Homo sapiens: one gene and its partners. The protein of the gene in region 1 purifies or fractionates together with the protein of each later gene. This does not show direct contact. Each region holds a gene or a part of one and is shown in the gene's direction. Other genes may lie near its edges.

Evidence for each region.
Region 2: the proteins of ERCC6L (region 1) and PPT1 purify together in Homo sapiens (co-immunoprecipitation; one large-scale study listed by IntAct). This does not show direct contact.
Region 3: the proteins of ERCC6L (region 1) and IQGAP3 purify together in Homo sapiens (co-immunoprecipitation; one large-scale study listed by IntAct). This does not show direct contact.
Region 4: the proteins of ERCC6L (region 1) and TOP3A purify together in Homo sapiens (tandem affinity purification; one large-scale study listed by IntAct). This does not show direct contact.

Annotation. Positions count from the first base shown.
Region 1 is NC_000023.11:72,236,187-72,240,493, reverse strand, and holds the start of ERCC6L (DNA excision repair protein ERCC-6-like), read left to right. Parts: upstream 1-1,466; 5' UTR 1,467-1,582; coding exon 1,583-1,650; intron 1,651-2,545; exon of another isoform or gene 2,546-2,663; intron 2,664-4,307. UniProt on the Homo sapiens protein: DNA helicase that acts as a tension sensor that associates with catenated DNA which is stretched under tension until it is resolved during anaphase. Functions as ATP-dependent DNA translocase. Can promote Holliday junction branch migration (in vitro).
Region 2 is NC_000001.11:40,083,710-40,087,297, reverse strand, and holds part of PPT1 (palmitoyl-protein thioesterase 1 isoform 1 precursor), read left to right. Parts: intron 1-3,588. UniProt on the Homo sapiens protein: Has thioesterase activity against fatty acid thioesters with 14 -18 carbons, including palmitoyl-CoA, S-palmitoyl-N-acetylcysteamine, and palmitoylated proteins. In contrast to PPT2, PPT1 can hydrolyze palmitoylated proteins and palmitoylcysteine.
Region 3 is NC_000001.11:156,566,066-156,569,565, reverse strand, and holds part of IQGAP3 (ras GTPase-activating-like protein IQGAP3), read left to right. Parts: intron 1-102; coding exon 103-190; intron 191-3,019; coding exon 3,020-3,176; intron 3,177-3,458; exon of another isoform or gene 3,459-3,461; coding exon 3,462-3,500.
Region 4 is NC_000017.11:18,287,407-18,290,994, reverse strand, and holds part of TOP3A (DNA topoisomerase 3-alpha), read left to right. Parts: coding exon 1-153; intron 154-308; coding exon 309-438; coding exon of another isoform or gene 439-473; exon of another isoform or gene 474-495; intron 496-3,588. UniProt on the Homo sapiens protein: Releases the supercoiling and torsional tension of DNA introduced during the DNA replication and transcription by transiently cleaving and rejoining one strand of the DNA duplex.

The DNA of each region.
Region 1 (4,307 bases):
ATAAATTTTATGAAAAGCTTAAAATTCTCTGGACATATGATGTATGACTGGGCCAATAGGTGAGTTTTCCAATACTGAATGCTAAATTAGTGTCTTGAGGAGTCATGTCTGTGTTCTTAACAGTATATGAACAAGGACAATTTTTGTTGGCCCACAACCTCCTATTTAGTGTCACCCAAGCAAGCCACTTAAACTCAATCACATTTCCTTAAGCTCTAGGCTCTGCCTTCTTTTTAGGCTCTGCATTTGAAAATGACTGTATCTTAGTTGGTGCTTCTGAAGAAATGATGACCACAGCACTACTTCTTTTTTTTTAAATTATTTTTGTCTTCCTTTTATTATACCAAGTATGTGAACCTAGTTACTTATTTCTTAAATAAGAACTTTAATTTTTTTTTTTTTTTTGAGATGGAGTCTTTCTCTGTCACCCAGGCTGGAGTGCAGTGGCATGATCTTGGCTCACTGCAGCCTCCACCTCCAGGGTTTGAGATTCTTGAAGACCCTTCTCTCTTTCTCTCTCTCTTTTTAAGAAAATAAATACAGCATAACGCCCTGTGGAGAAGAAAAAAATTTTTTTTAAAGAGACGGGAGTCTCACCATGTTGCCCAGGCTGGTCTCGAACTCCTAAGTGCAAGTGATCCTCCCACCTTAGCCTCCCAAAAGGCTAGGATAACAGGCGTGAGGCACTGCACCCAGCCTTTTTTTTTTTTTTTTTTTTTTTTGAGATGGAGTCTCGCTTTGCCACCCAGGCTGGAGTGCAGTGGTGCAATCCCGGCTCACTGCAACCTCCACCTCCTGGGTCCAAGCGATTCTCGTGCCTCAGCCACCCGAGTAGCTGGGACTGCGGGCGCCCGCCACCACGCCCGGCTAATTTTTTGTATTTTTAGTAGAGACGGGGTGTCACCATTTTAGCCAGGTTGGTCTCGAACTCCTGACCTCACGTGATCCGCCCGCCCCGGTCTCCCAAAGTGCTGGGATTACAGGCGTGAACCACCGCGTCTGGTCGCTTCTTCAATGTTAGTTTAAATCACAGGGACTATGCCTCCCAGGGTGTTTGAATTCAAAGCACGGTCAGTGCCAGGTACTGGCGATCAAGGAAGGGAAGATATCTGTGGATGCGGGGCAGGGTATGGTTGGGGGACGCAGGCGTTGGAGATCTCCAGGGGTCGCCGCAATGACTGGGATCATATCGGGCAGTCTCCTCCACTCACAATGATGGCACACGCACGCGCGAACGAATTGGCTGCAGCATGGTTTGAATTGGATTGAAACGCGAGGGATCACAGACTGAGGCAGCACACTCCGTGTCTCGAAGGCAGAGATCACCTTCTGCTTCCCGGCGCGCGTAGGCGCAGGCGCCCACCGTCATGGGCGGGGCTCAGGCGGAGGCGTCGCAGCGCGTGGTCGCGGATTGGCCGGCCGCGAGGCCGTCGGTTGGCTGTGTCCCTCTCCACGGCGCACAGAGCATGCGCGGGGCGGGAGTGAGCGAAATTCAAGCTCCAAACTCTAAGCTCCAAGCTCCAAGCTCCAAGCTCCAAGCTCCAAACTCCCGCCGGGGTAACTGGAACCCAATCCGAGGGTCATGGAGGCATCCCGAAGGTTTCCGGAAGCCGAGGCCTTGAGCCCAGAGCAGGCTGCTCATTACCTAAGGTATGTCTGGACCGCTGGGCGGGTCTAGCTAACCGACCTGGCCCAGGGTGGAGGTGGGGTGGCCCCCGGATCCTCCTGGGGACCCGAACTGTTGAGGCGGAGCCTTTTGAGACGCGCGCTCGCGCTCTTCTCGCAGTAGGGTGTGGGAGTCAGCTCTGGATGTTTGACCAGATTTCTAAAACCTGAGGAGACCCCGATGCCTCTTCTTTTGGGCAAATGACCCTCCAGTATGGTCTCCTTAAAAGCCAGAGGAGCCTTAATTAATCAAGCCCTTCTTGATTCTTTTCAGCTTATCAAGCCCTAAGTCTAGGGGATACAGAGATGAGTAAAACAAGGTCCCCGCCCCCAAATTGTTTGTAATCTAGTAGTGGAAACGGATCTGTAAAGCAATAATTACTAGGTTTGATAAGTGCTGTAAGAGGTATAATGTACGTGCAGGGCACAGTGTTGGCATAAAAGAGGGAATGGCCAACTACAAGGGTGGTCAGCTAAGGGATGGCGTGGCAAGAGGAGACATTTGAGCTAGGCGTTGAAAAATGAGTAAACATTCACCAGTTGGCTAAGGGTGGGGGGCGTGGTAATGTTGGGATGAGAATTTAAATTTTTTCTTAAATTGTGGTAAAGTACACATAACATAAATTTTATCTTTTTGTGCAGAAACTGGGTTTTATGAAAAATAAAGTTTATCATCCTAACCATTTTTAAATGTACAGTTCAGTAGTGTTGACTACATTCATATTGTTGTGCAGCCGTCCGTCATCTCCAGAACTTTTCTCATGTGGCAAAACTGAAACTACTCCCATTAAACAAACTCCCCATTTCCCCCTCCCTTCAGCCCCTAGCAACCATTATTCTGTCTCTGTGAATTTTACTGCTTTAATTTTTTTTGAGACAGGGTCTTGCTGTGTCGCCCAGACTGGAATTCAGTGGCCTGATCATAGTTCACTGCAGCCTCGAACTCCTGGGCTCAAGCAGTCCTCCTGCCCCAGCCTCCCTAGTAGCTGGGACTTAAGGTGGGTGCCACCATGTCCAGCCAATTTATTATTTTACTATTGTTGTTTTATATATATTTTTAGAGACAGGGTCTGGCTCTGTCACCCAGGCTGGAGTGCAGTGGCGCGATCTCTAACTCAGCTCACTGCAACTTCCATCCCCCGGGGCTCATGCGATCCTCCCACCTGTTTCCGGAGTAGCTGGGACCACAGGCGCACACCACCACACCCAGCTATTTTTTTTTTTTCTTTTTTTGATACAGTCTCGCTCTGTCACCCAGGCTGGAGTGCAGTGGCGCGGTCTGGGCTCACAGCAAGCTCCGCCTTCCGGGTTCACGCCATTCTCCTGCCTCAGCCTCCCGAGTAGCTGGGACTACAGGCGCCCGCTAACACACCCGGCTAATTTTTTGTATTTTTGGTAGAGACGGGGTTTCACCGTGTTAGCCGGGATGGTCTCAATCTCCTGACCTCGTGATCCGCCCGCCTCGGCCTCCCAAAGTATTTTTTTTGTGTTTTTAGTAGAGACAGGGTCTCGCCATGTTGCCCAGGCTGGTCTCAAACTCCTGAGTTCAAGCAATCCTCCTGCCTCGGCCTCCCAAAGTGTTGAGATTACAGACGTGGGCCACCATGCCAGGCCTTTCATTTAGATTTTTCCAATTGTTTGCCATTATACTTTTGTTGTAATAGGCAGCCTTTGTGTGAATTTTTGTGCACTTCGTAACTGAGTGTACACTTTGGAATTCCGATTGCTGGGTCTTAGGGAATGTGTATTTAAAATTGCCATTCAAGAAAACCATGCCAGATTTTAATAAAGTCAATAGTGTGAGTAAGCATTTATTTATATTCTCTCAGGCTGGTGTGTGATGAGCTATATGAGTCAATTCAAAAGTTAAGATACATAGTTTTACTTTTGAAGCTAAGACTTGTAGTATTTTCTTCTACAGATACACTTACATGAGTGAGCAAAGATGTGTGTGCGTGTGTATACAGTAAGTCCTCACTTAACATTGTCCATAGGTTCTTGGAAACTGACTTTAAGTGAAATGACGTAGCAAAACCAATTTTTTTCTCATCAGTGTTGCAGCAAAATGATATTGAATGAACCAGTGTCATTCAAGGGCCTGCTGTGTGTCATTTTGCTTAAAGTTGCAGTTGCCAAGAACCTACTGACCACGTTAACTGAGGACTTACTGTACATATAAACATATACCAGAGGTGTGTGCCATGAAGCCCGGCTAATTTTTAAAAGATTTTTGTAGGCTGGGTGCAGTGGCTCATGCCTGTAATCCCAGCACTTTGGGAGGGCGAGGCAGGTGCATCACGAGGTCAGGAGTTCAAGACCAGTCTGGACAACATGGTGAAGCCCCGTCTCTACTAAAAATACAAAAATTAGTCAGATATGGTGGCGGGCACCTGTAATCCCAGCTACTTGGGAGGCTGAGGCAGAATTGCTTCAACCCAGGAGGCGGAGGTTGCAGCGAGCTGAGATGGCGCCACTGCACTCCAGCCTGGGCAACAGAGCAAGACTCCGTCTCAGAAAAAAAAGAAAAAAAAGATTTTTGTAGAGATGAAGTCTCACTGTGTTGCCCAGGCTGGTCTTGAACTCCTAGACTCAAGTGATCCTCCCAACTCAGGCTGCCAAAGCACTGGGATTACAGGTGTGAG
Region 2 (3,588 bases), on another chromosome or scaffold:
GCACCCCAACCTAGATGACAGAGTGAGACTCTGTCTCAAAAAATAAAAATAAAAAATACTGATTAAAAGCTATAGATTGATGTGTTTATCTTCACTTCCTCCTTAAACTTTAATTAAGTGGTAGCAGAAGAATAAAAAGTGATAAACCCACAAGGGCAGAGAGAACAGGGAGAGAGGAGGTAAGAGATCATAAAAAATGGCAACATGTTTTTGAAAGCAAGCAAGCAGATGAATGAGTGTGAGAACTGTTTTAGCAGAGCAGATGGTGAAGGCTTAAAGTAATAAAGAGAAATCATTTTGTCTTTGTGATACTGTCCCAGGTTGCCCCTGGTATTAGGGAGGATTAATTCTGGTTGCAAGAAGAAACCCATATCAAGCCAAAGTAAATTTTAAAAGAAAGTAATACTCTGTTGGTGCCTAAAGCCTCATAGGGCCTAGAATCAAGAATTGGGAGCCATGAGGAGCCAGGGTATTCTCTCTCCAGTGCCATTGTTGCTTCTCTCTCTGTGTCGCTGCTTCTTTCTCTCCATGCAGACCAGCTTCCCCTGCCACCCACATGATGGAAGGTGGCCTCGCACGGCTTCCAAATGTTTAATTTTCTGTTAGGAGATTGTCTCAGTCTGAGGCTAGACTCTCTTTGTCCCGATTCAGATTCTTCAGGAAGGGACCATGCCCCAGCTCAGGTCAGGTCTCCCCCTCTGCTCTCATTAGCTGTGGCCAGAGAAGTGGGACCGTGCTTACTAACCATACCCCACCTCCCTGTAAACCAGTAGGCCGGGCAGGAAGAGTGCAAGAGAGGCAGAGACCCCAAAAGATGTCTTCCACATTCTTCAGATAACTTAACCTTAGCAAAGCAAACGTGATATCCTAATACGCACAGTAACTGGTGGGGAAGCCCCCGGCTTGGCATGGTGAGGGCAACGAGGAATGGTATAATAGTTCTCTCTCTCCTTCCTGGATGTAAAACTACCCTCTAGTTCCCTTTTGCCTTTGCAGATGCTGTCAGCCCTTCCTAGCCTTCTCCTTCCTCCGGTTTGCTCCCTGCCATCCCCTGCCCCACGCTCTACCCTCCTACCTCTACACTCCCTGCCACAATGAATGCTTCAGTGTTGCCCTGGCCTTGGCCTCCGTCTTCCCCCGTACCAGCTCAGAGGAAGCTAGAGCTTTACATATCCTGTTTAATTTTCATAGCAACTTGCCTTCCCCAGGTCTGCTCTGGGCCCCGCTCCCAGTTTGCACCCCACCCTCAGTGGATCTCAGAGTGCTTTTCCTCAATTGTCCAGTTTTCCCATGTCTTTGCCCTCAGCCGATGAACTTGCAACTTGGTTTTCTGGAAATATTAAGGCATCTACTCAGGCTCTCTCAGAGACTTTCAGCCATTCAAAAAAGTTAGAGAGTAATGTAACGAACTACAGGCATACCTCAGAGAAACTGAGGATTTGGTTCTAGACCACCACAATAAAGCAAATATTGTTAATACAGCAAGTCACACAAAGTTGTTGGTTTCCCAGCGCATATAAAAGCTATGTTTACACTATACTGAAGTCTATTAAGTGTGCAGTAGCATCATGCCTAAAAAAAGTACATGCCTTAATTAGAAAATACTTTATTGCTAAAAAATGCTAATCATTTGAGTCTTCAGCAAGTCATCTTTTTGCTGGTGGAGGGTCTTGCCTCGGTGTTGATGGCTGCTGACTGATCAGGGTGGTGGTTGCTGAAGGTTGGGATGTAGGGTCCAGCCCCACAGGGTCGGTGGGTTTTTCTCCCTGTGTGCGGAGATGAGAGATTGTAGAAATAAAGACACAAGACAAAGAGATAAAAGACAGCTGGGCCCGGGGGACCACTACCACCAAGACGTGGAGACTGGTAGCGGCCCCGAATGCCAGGCTGCGCTGATATTTATTGGATACAAGACAAGGGGGGCAGGGTAAGGAGTGTGAGCCATCTCCCATGATAGGTAAAGTCACATGGGTCACGTGTCCACTGGACAGGGGGCCCTTCCCTGTTTGGCAGCCGAGGTGGGGAGAGAGAGAGAGAAAGACAGCTTAGGCCATTATTTCTGCATATCAGAGACTTTTAGTACTTTCACTAATTTTGCTACTGCTATCTAAAAGGCAGAGCCAGGTGTACAGGATGGAACATGAAAGCAGGCTAGGAACATGACCACTGAAGCACAGCATCACAGGGAGATGGTTGGGCCTCCGGATAACTGCAGGCGGGCCTGACTGATGTCACGCCCTCCACAAGAGGTGGAGGAGTAGAGGCTTCTCTAAACTCCCCCGGGGAAAGGGAGACTCCCTTTCCCAGTCTGCTAAGTAGTGGGTGTTTTTCCTTGGCACTGACGCTACCACTAGACCACGGTCCGCTTGGCAACGGACATCTTCCCAGACGCTGGCATTACCGCTAGACCAAGGAGCCCTCTAGTGGCCCTGTCCGGGCATGACAGAGGGCTCACACTATTGTCTTCTGGTCACTTCTGAGCATGTCCCTTCAGCTCCTATCTCTGTATGGCCTGGCTTTTCCTAGGTTATGATTGTAGGGCAAGGATTATTATAATATTGGAATAAAGAATAATTGCTACAAACTAATGATGAATGGTATTCATATATAATCATGTTTATGATCTAGGTCTAGGATAACTCTTGTTGTTTTATATATTTTATTATACCGGAACAGCTCATGCCCTCGGTCTCTTGCCTCGGCACCTGGGTGGCCTGCTGCCCACATTGGGGTGGCTGTGCTAATTTCTTAAAGTGAGACAATGATGAACTTTGTATCAGTTGACTCTTCCTTTCATGAAAGATTTCTTTGTAGCATGCGATGCTATTTGGTAGCATTTTGGCCACAATAGAACATCTTTCAGAACTGGAGTCAATCCTCAAACCCTGCCGCTGCTTTTATGTAAGCTTATGTAATATTTATTCTAAATCCTTTGTTGTCGTTTCATCAGTGTTCACAGCATCTTCACCAGGAGTAGATTCCATCTCAAGAAGCCACTGTTTTGCTCATCCGTAAGAAGCAATTCCTTATCTGTTTTTTGAGATTGCAACAATTCAGTCACATCGTCAGGTTCCACTTCTAATTCTAGTTCTCCTGCTATTTCCACATCTGCAGTTACTTCCTTCATTGAAGTCTTGAATCCCTCAGCCATTCATGAGGGTTGGAATCAACTTCTTTTAAATTCCTGATAATACTGATATTTTGACCTCTTCCCGTGAATCATGAATTTTTGTTTGTTTGTTTTTGAGACAGAGTCTCACTCTGTCACCCAAGTTGGAGTGCAGTGGTGCCATTACAGCTTACTGCAACATAGCCTCAACCTCCCAGGCTCAAGCAATCCTCCCACCTCAGCGTCCTGAGCAGCTGGGACTACAGGTGTGAGCCACTACACCCCACTAATTTTTTAATTTTTTTGTAGAGATAGGATCTCATTTATGTTGCCCAGGCTAGTCTCACACTCCTGGGCTCCACTGATTTTCCCTCCTCACCCTCCCAAAGTGCATGGTACCCAGCCCGTTAATGTTCTTAATGGCATCTAGAATGATAAATCCTTTCCATCAGGTTTTCCGTTTACTTTGCCCAGATGCA
Region 3 (3,500 bases), on another chromosome or scaffold:
GCCTGGGCGTCTCAAAAAAAAAAAAAAAAAAAAAAAAGACCCTTCAGTGCTAAGGCACCTCTAATGCTCTCTTCATTGACCTTATCCCGTTTAACTCCTCAGATGAACGCCTCACAGCTGAGGAGATGGATGAGCAGAGGCGGCAGAATGTTGCCTATCAGTACCTGTGCCGGCTGGAGGAGGCCAAGCGGTGAGCGGAGTCCAGGAAGATGGACTCTTTCTGCTCTCCCTTTCTACCACCCCACCCTAGGCATCTGCCGCTAAAGCAAATGCAACAGATCGAGAGTCCATCCTGTGGGAAAGGGCGAGTTGAAATAGCTTTTTAATTTTTTTTTTTTGAAGCAAATCCCAGTCACATCCTTTTACCCACTATATACCGCAATATGTATCTCCAAAATATGTGGACGTTCGCTTATATAGCCACAATGCCATTATAATATCCAACTAAATTATTTTAAATCCTTGGAAGATCAATACCCAAGCCATTTTCAAATTTTCCTGCTTGTCTTAAAAAAAAAATCTGTTTTTACAGTTATCTTATTCAAATAAGGATCCAAAAAGCTCACTAATTACATCTGCTTGTATGTCTTCTTTAATCCAGAGCAGCCCATCTCCTTTTTTCAGTTCATTATCTTATTGACTTGCTGAAGAAAACTGGGTCATTTTCCTGAAGTACATCCTACATTTTGTCTCTATTTCTTTTCTTTCTTTCCTTCTGTTTTTTAGAGATGGGTGTCTATTTGCTTTCTTGTGTCATTCAGCTTATTCCTGTATACCCTGTATTTCCTATAAATGAATGTTGGCTTAATTAGATTTGGGTTCAACATTTTTGACAAGCAACATGGCGAAACCCCATCTTTACAAAAAATACAAATATTAGCCAGGCATGGTGGCGTGTGCCCATAGTCCCAGCTACTTGGGGGGCTGAGGAAGGAGGATTGCTTGAACCTGGGAGGTCGAGGAGGCCACAGTGAGCCAAGATGGCACCACTGCACTCCATCCTGGATGACAAAGTGAGACTGTGTCTCCAAAAACAAACAGAAAAACCTGGATGGGCGCTGTGGCTCACGCCTGTAATCCCAGCACTTTGGGAGGCCAAGGCGGGCAGATCACCTGGGGCCAGGAGTTTGAGACCAGCCTGGCTGACATGGTGAAATCCTGTCTCTACAAAAAAAATACAAAAATTAGCTGGTCGCAGTGGTGCATGCCTGTAATCCCAGCTACTCAGGAGGCTGAGGCAGGAGAATCGCTTGAACCCAGGAGGCAGATGTTGCAGTGAGCCAAGATCATGCCATTGCACTCCAGCCTGGGTGAAAGAGTGAGACTCTGTCTCAAAAAAAAACAAAAACAAAAAGCCATTTTTGACAAGAAGACTTCATTAGTGTTGGTGGTTTTTTTTCCCCCACTCAGATCCTTTTACCCCTTATATACTGCAATACATATATCTAAAATATGTGATATTTAACATATGTAAGATACATGTTCCATATCACATCTTATAGAAAGAATACAATGTCTGCTTGTTCCACTTTTAGTGATGCTAAGTTCAATCTGGGAGTTTAGGTGAAACCAACCTGATTTACACATCATAAAATTTCCCATTAACTTTCATCTAATGCCTTCATTCATTGTTGGTCTACATCAGAATTTATTATTTTATCAAGGGTGTAAAATGACTATTTTCTAGTTCTGTCATTTCTTCCATATTTACTAGCTGAAATCCTAAAGAACATTCCCTCATCATCTTAGGACTATTCGGTTACTCTAAAAGTCAATCTGTACAGGAAAAGCAGGATACGTACTTAATTCTTTGCTTTTAATCAACAGGATTCTTTTAATGTTCTTAAAGGAGTCAGGAGGATGGGGCAATCAGGAAAAATCAGGTGTCTAAGGCAGGGAAGACATGGAACAATGTGTAACTGGCTCTCTTTTTGGAAACAGATACTTTCCAATTAGACCCCAATATGTAGGGAAGTTTGGAGATTCCATCTGAGTAGACTTTAATCTCTCCCTCATACAACCATCAGTAATAATAATACTTTATATTCAAAGTGTTTTCACATTCATTAGCTCATTTGATCCTGGCAGCTGCCCACTGAAGGAAATACAGGTGGCATTATCCTCATTTTGCAAATTGTGCAACTGAGGCTCACAGAGGTGAAGTAGGGAAGATGGTTGGAAAGGGGGCCTTCGGACTCCAAGAGCTGTGGTCGTTCTGTCCCTTTGTGCTGCTCCCCTTCCACCAGCCCCACTACTCTCATCATCATCAAAGCTGGGTTATGAGCCATGTAGATCATTCAGGCAGACATGACCTTTCTGCACCCAGGTTCTCAGAGAACAACCCAGAATGAAAGAAGTGAGCACGTTCTATTTTGTTTAGCAGTCAAAGATGTAACTAGGGCCGGGCGCGGTGGCTCATGCCTGTAATCCCAGCACTTTGGGAGGCCAAGGCGGGCGGATCACCTGAGGTCGGGAGTTTGAGACCAGCCTGACCAACATGGAGAAACCCTATCTCTACTAAAAATACAAAATTAGCTGGGCGTGGTGGGGTGTGCCTGTAATCCCAACTACTCGGGAGGCTGAAGGCAGGAGAATCACTTGAACCTGGGAGGCGGAGGTTGCAGTGAGCCAAGATCGCACCATTGCACTCTAGCCTGGGCAACAAGAGCGAGACGCCATTTCAAAAAAAAAAAAAAAAAAAAAAGCATGTAACTAGACTGAGTGAGAAGCTATGTAACAGTTAAGCCTCACTGAAGATGGGCAGGTTCAGGATCTGTCAAGGAAGATTTGCTGGGGTGGGTGGGGCTGAGGGTTGGCCAGTCCAGATATTTGGGGCAACCTAGGAGAAGGTGGGAACAGCCAGGCAATGGGCAGAGAAGGGAGTTGGAGGTAGAGCAGGAACAGGAAGCAGAGGAGGGTCAGGGGCCACTTAAAAGGAGGGACAGAGGGAAGTTCCTGTTGTTAGAATAAATCACTGTGGTCTGCCAGAGTGCGTGAGAAGGTGTTCTCATGTTCATAGCTGGATGGAGGCCTGCCTGAAGGAGGAGCTTCCTTCCCCGGTGGAGCTGGAGGAGAGCCTTCGGAATGGAGTGCTGCTGGCCAAGCTAGGCCACTGTTTTGCACCCTCCGTGGTTCCCTTGAAGAAGATCTACGATGTGGAGCAGCTGCGGTACCAGGTGGGAGGATTGGACCCCACCTTCTACCTTCGTCCCCTCAAACTATGCTTTCTCCTCAAAGCTGTGAGGGTAGAGTGACCATATAACTTATTGTCCAAATCTGGATAAAAGGGAGTGTTATTAATCTATGTTTCTCTGTCCTGGTAGGGATGGAAAATCCACAGGATGTGGTCCTCTGGTTCCCCTCTGCCCATCTCTCCTGAATCTTTAAGCTGTAGTCTGGGCTTTACCCATAGGGAGTGCTGAGAACTGTGGAAATAGATTTTCTTTTTCCTTCCCTTTCAGGCAACTGGCTTACATTTCCGTCACACAGACAACATCAAC
Region 4 (3,588 bases), on another chromosome or scaffold:
CGCCATTTCCTGGCTTGCTGCTCCCAGGATGCTCAGGGGCAGGAGACCACAGTGGAGATCGACATCGCTCAGGAACGCTTTGTGGCCCATGGCCTCATGATTCTGGCCCGAAACTATCTGGATGTGTATCCATATGATCACTGGAGTGACAAGGTAATAAAGAGTGGTCCCCAGTGAGAGGGAGGACAGTTGTGTTGTGAGCCCTGAGTTCTCTAGTGGAGCAGGATCATGTTCCTTGAAATGAGGTTATTTTTTGCCTGAGTGTGCTGATGGAATCATCTGACTGTTGCACCTGCCGCTCCCTGTAGATCCTCCCTGTCTATGAGCAAGGATCCCACTTTCAGCCCAGCACCGTGGAGATGGTGGACGGGGAGACCAGCCCACCCAAGCTGCTCACCGAGGCCGACCTCATTGCCCTCATGGAGAAGCATGGCATTGGTCAGTGGCTCCTCTGGGTAACTCGCATCTCTTGAGCTAAGGCTTACAGTGTACCAGGTACAGGTTTCCTCTAGTCTTCAAACCATTCTCTAATGCAGCTGCTATATCTTTATCCCATTTTATAGTTGAAATAAGGCTCAGAGAGGTTAAGAACTTACCTAAGTTCACAAAGTGTGTATTATTAAAACCTGGTCTGAATAACTCCACAGTCAGTGCTCTTAAACCATGCACTGTGCTGTCCACATAGTAACAGAGACTTTTCCCATGGCTTTGAGGGCCCAACTGGGAGCACCCATTGGCCACATGAGGATTTGTTGTTCTTTCGAATAAGAACAGCATGTAAGGAACCAACAATTAAAACTTGGGACAGTTATCATAAAATCTATCTTCATTTTGAAGTGTCAGATAGAGCCCTGAGCCTCCTTCCCATGTGGAGCATTGGGTGAGGGTGGCAGCTGTCTCTGCAGGTCTGAACCCACACTGCTCACTCAGGCTGCTCACGCTGGCCTCATGTATGTGCCAGGACCCTGCTGATAAGTCCCATGGCTCAAGCTTTGCAGGTAGGGCCTTGTAACTAATCTGCTGTCCCCTCCATTCGTTTTTGTCAAGGCTCTCAAGGGCTTTCTCTGGCAAACCTAGTCCAGGAATACCTGCAGCACAGTGGAGGGGAAGCAGAGCTCCCTGGGCATGTGTTACATAAGCAGCTGCGTCATCCACAAAGGGAGTTTCTTAGGCCTATGACTTGGGAAGCAGTGCTTCAACGTGAAGTCCTTGACCATCACTAGGACATCCAGAAACCCTGCAGGTTTAGGTAAAATTAGTAGAGGTTCACCCGTCATGATTTATTTGATAAAAATGTATGAAGGCTGGGTGTGGTGGCTCACACCTGTAATCCCAGCATTTTGGGAGGCCAAGATGGGTGAATCACTTGAGCCCAGGAATTCAAGACCAGCTTGGGCAACACGGTAAAACCCCATCTTGCTGGGCGCAGTGGCTCACGCCTGTAATCCCAACACTTCAGGAGGCTGAGCTGGGTGGATCACCTGAGGTAGGGAGTTTAAGACCACCAACCTGACCAACATGGTGAAACTCTGTCTCTACTAAAAATACAAAAATTAGCCAGGCATGGCGGTGGGCACCTGTAGCTGAGATTGTGCCATTGTACTCCAGCCTGGGCAACAACAGCAAAACTCTGTCTTAAAACAAACAAACAAACAACAACAACAACAACAAAACAGATCTGGCTGGGCACGGTGACTCATGCCTGTAATCTTAGTACTTTGGGAGGCCAAGGCGGGTGGATCACCTAAGGTCAGGAGTTCGAGACCAGCCTGGCCAACATGGCAAAACCCCATCACTACTAAAAAAATACAAAAATTAGCTAGGCGTGGTGGCACATGCCTGTAATCCCAGCTACTTGGGAGGCTGAGGCAGGAGAATTGCATGAACCCGGGAGGTGGAGGATGCAGTGAGCCAGGATCGCAGCACTGCACTCCAGCCTGGGTGACAGAGTGAGACTCCATCTCAAAAAAAACATTTCTACAAAAAATTAGGTGCATGCCTATAGGTAGGGAGGCTGAGGTGGGAGGATCACTTGAGCCCGGAAGGCAGAGACTGAGGTACAAAGTGTGAGGCCCACAAGAGTGAGAGCTTGGACTAAGCACCAGGGACACAAGGAGGAATAAGACCTCATTTTTTAAGTTCTCAATCTAACAGAAGAACCAAACCAACACATTGAATACAATGTAATAGTTCTGCAGGGAGTAGGCAGGGAAGAAAATGTGATGGGTGGACTGGCATTTGAGCTGGACCAAAACCTCATAGTAAGACTTCTGGATCAGCGAAGGGCAGCCCAGTGCAGGGTAGGCCTGAGGAAGGGCACAGGAGCAGGAAAGCAGAAGCCTGCTGTAGCTGGATTGGAGGGGGGTGGCCATAGAAGGTGAGCCTGGAAAGATGATCCAAGCCTGACTTTGCAGGGCCTTGGCTTGCCCAGTTGAAGGGCTTAGATGGTGGTACATGGTCAGCAGGGAGTCTTCCAGGATTTCTAAGTAAAGGAACCACATAGAGGTACACTTACAAAAAAATAATAATAATATTTTTAAAAGATTATTAACAGGCTGGGCATTGTGTCTCACACCTATAATCCCAGCACTTTGGGAGACCAAGGTAGGGGGTCAGGAGTTCAAGACCAGCCTGGACAACATGGTGAAACTCCATCTCTACTAAAAATACAAAAAATTGCTAGGTGTTATGGCTGACGCCTGTAATCCCAGCTACTTAGGAGGCTGAGGCAGGAGAATTGCTTGAACCCGGGAGGTGGAGGTTGCAGTGAGCCAAGATTGTGCCACTGCACTTCAGCCTTGGTGACAGAGAGAGACTCCATCTAAAAAAAAAAAAAAAAAAAATTTATATATATATATATATAATTATTAACAGCTTTATTTATATACCATACAGTTTATCTCCTTCAAATGTATAATGTACATTTTTTAGCATATTCACAAAGTTGTGCAGCTATCACCACAGTCAGTTTTTTTGTTTTTTTTGTTGTTTGTTTGAGATGGAGTTTTGCTCTTGTTGCTGCAGGCTGGAGTGGAGTGGCACAATCTCTGCTCACTGCAACTTCCGCCACCCAGGTTCAAGCGATTCTCCTGTCTCAGCCTCCCGAGTAGCTAGGCTTACAGGCACGCACCACCACACCCAGCTAATTTTTGTTATTTTTAGTAGAGACAGGGTTTCACCATGTTGGCCAGGTTGGCTGGTCTCAAACTCCTGACCTCATGATCCGCCCACCTAGGCCTCCCAAAGTGTTAGGATTACAGGTGTTAGCCACCATGCCCGGCCCCTAAAAAAATTTGTTTTGGAGAGATAGCATCTTACTCTGTCACCCAGGCTAGGTCACAGCCATGAACCCTGGGTTTCAAGGGATCCTTCCACCTCAGCTTCCCAAGTAGCTGGGACTACAGGCATGTGTTGCCATACCCAGCTAATTTTTTTGTTGGGTTTTTTGTTTGTTTGTTTTGTTTTGTTTGAGACAGAGTCTTACTCTGTCACCCAGGCTGGAGTGTAGTGGCACGATTTCAGCTCACTGCAACCTCCGCCTCCCAGGTTCAAGAGATTCTCCTGCCTCAGCCTCCTGAGTAGCTGGGA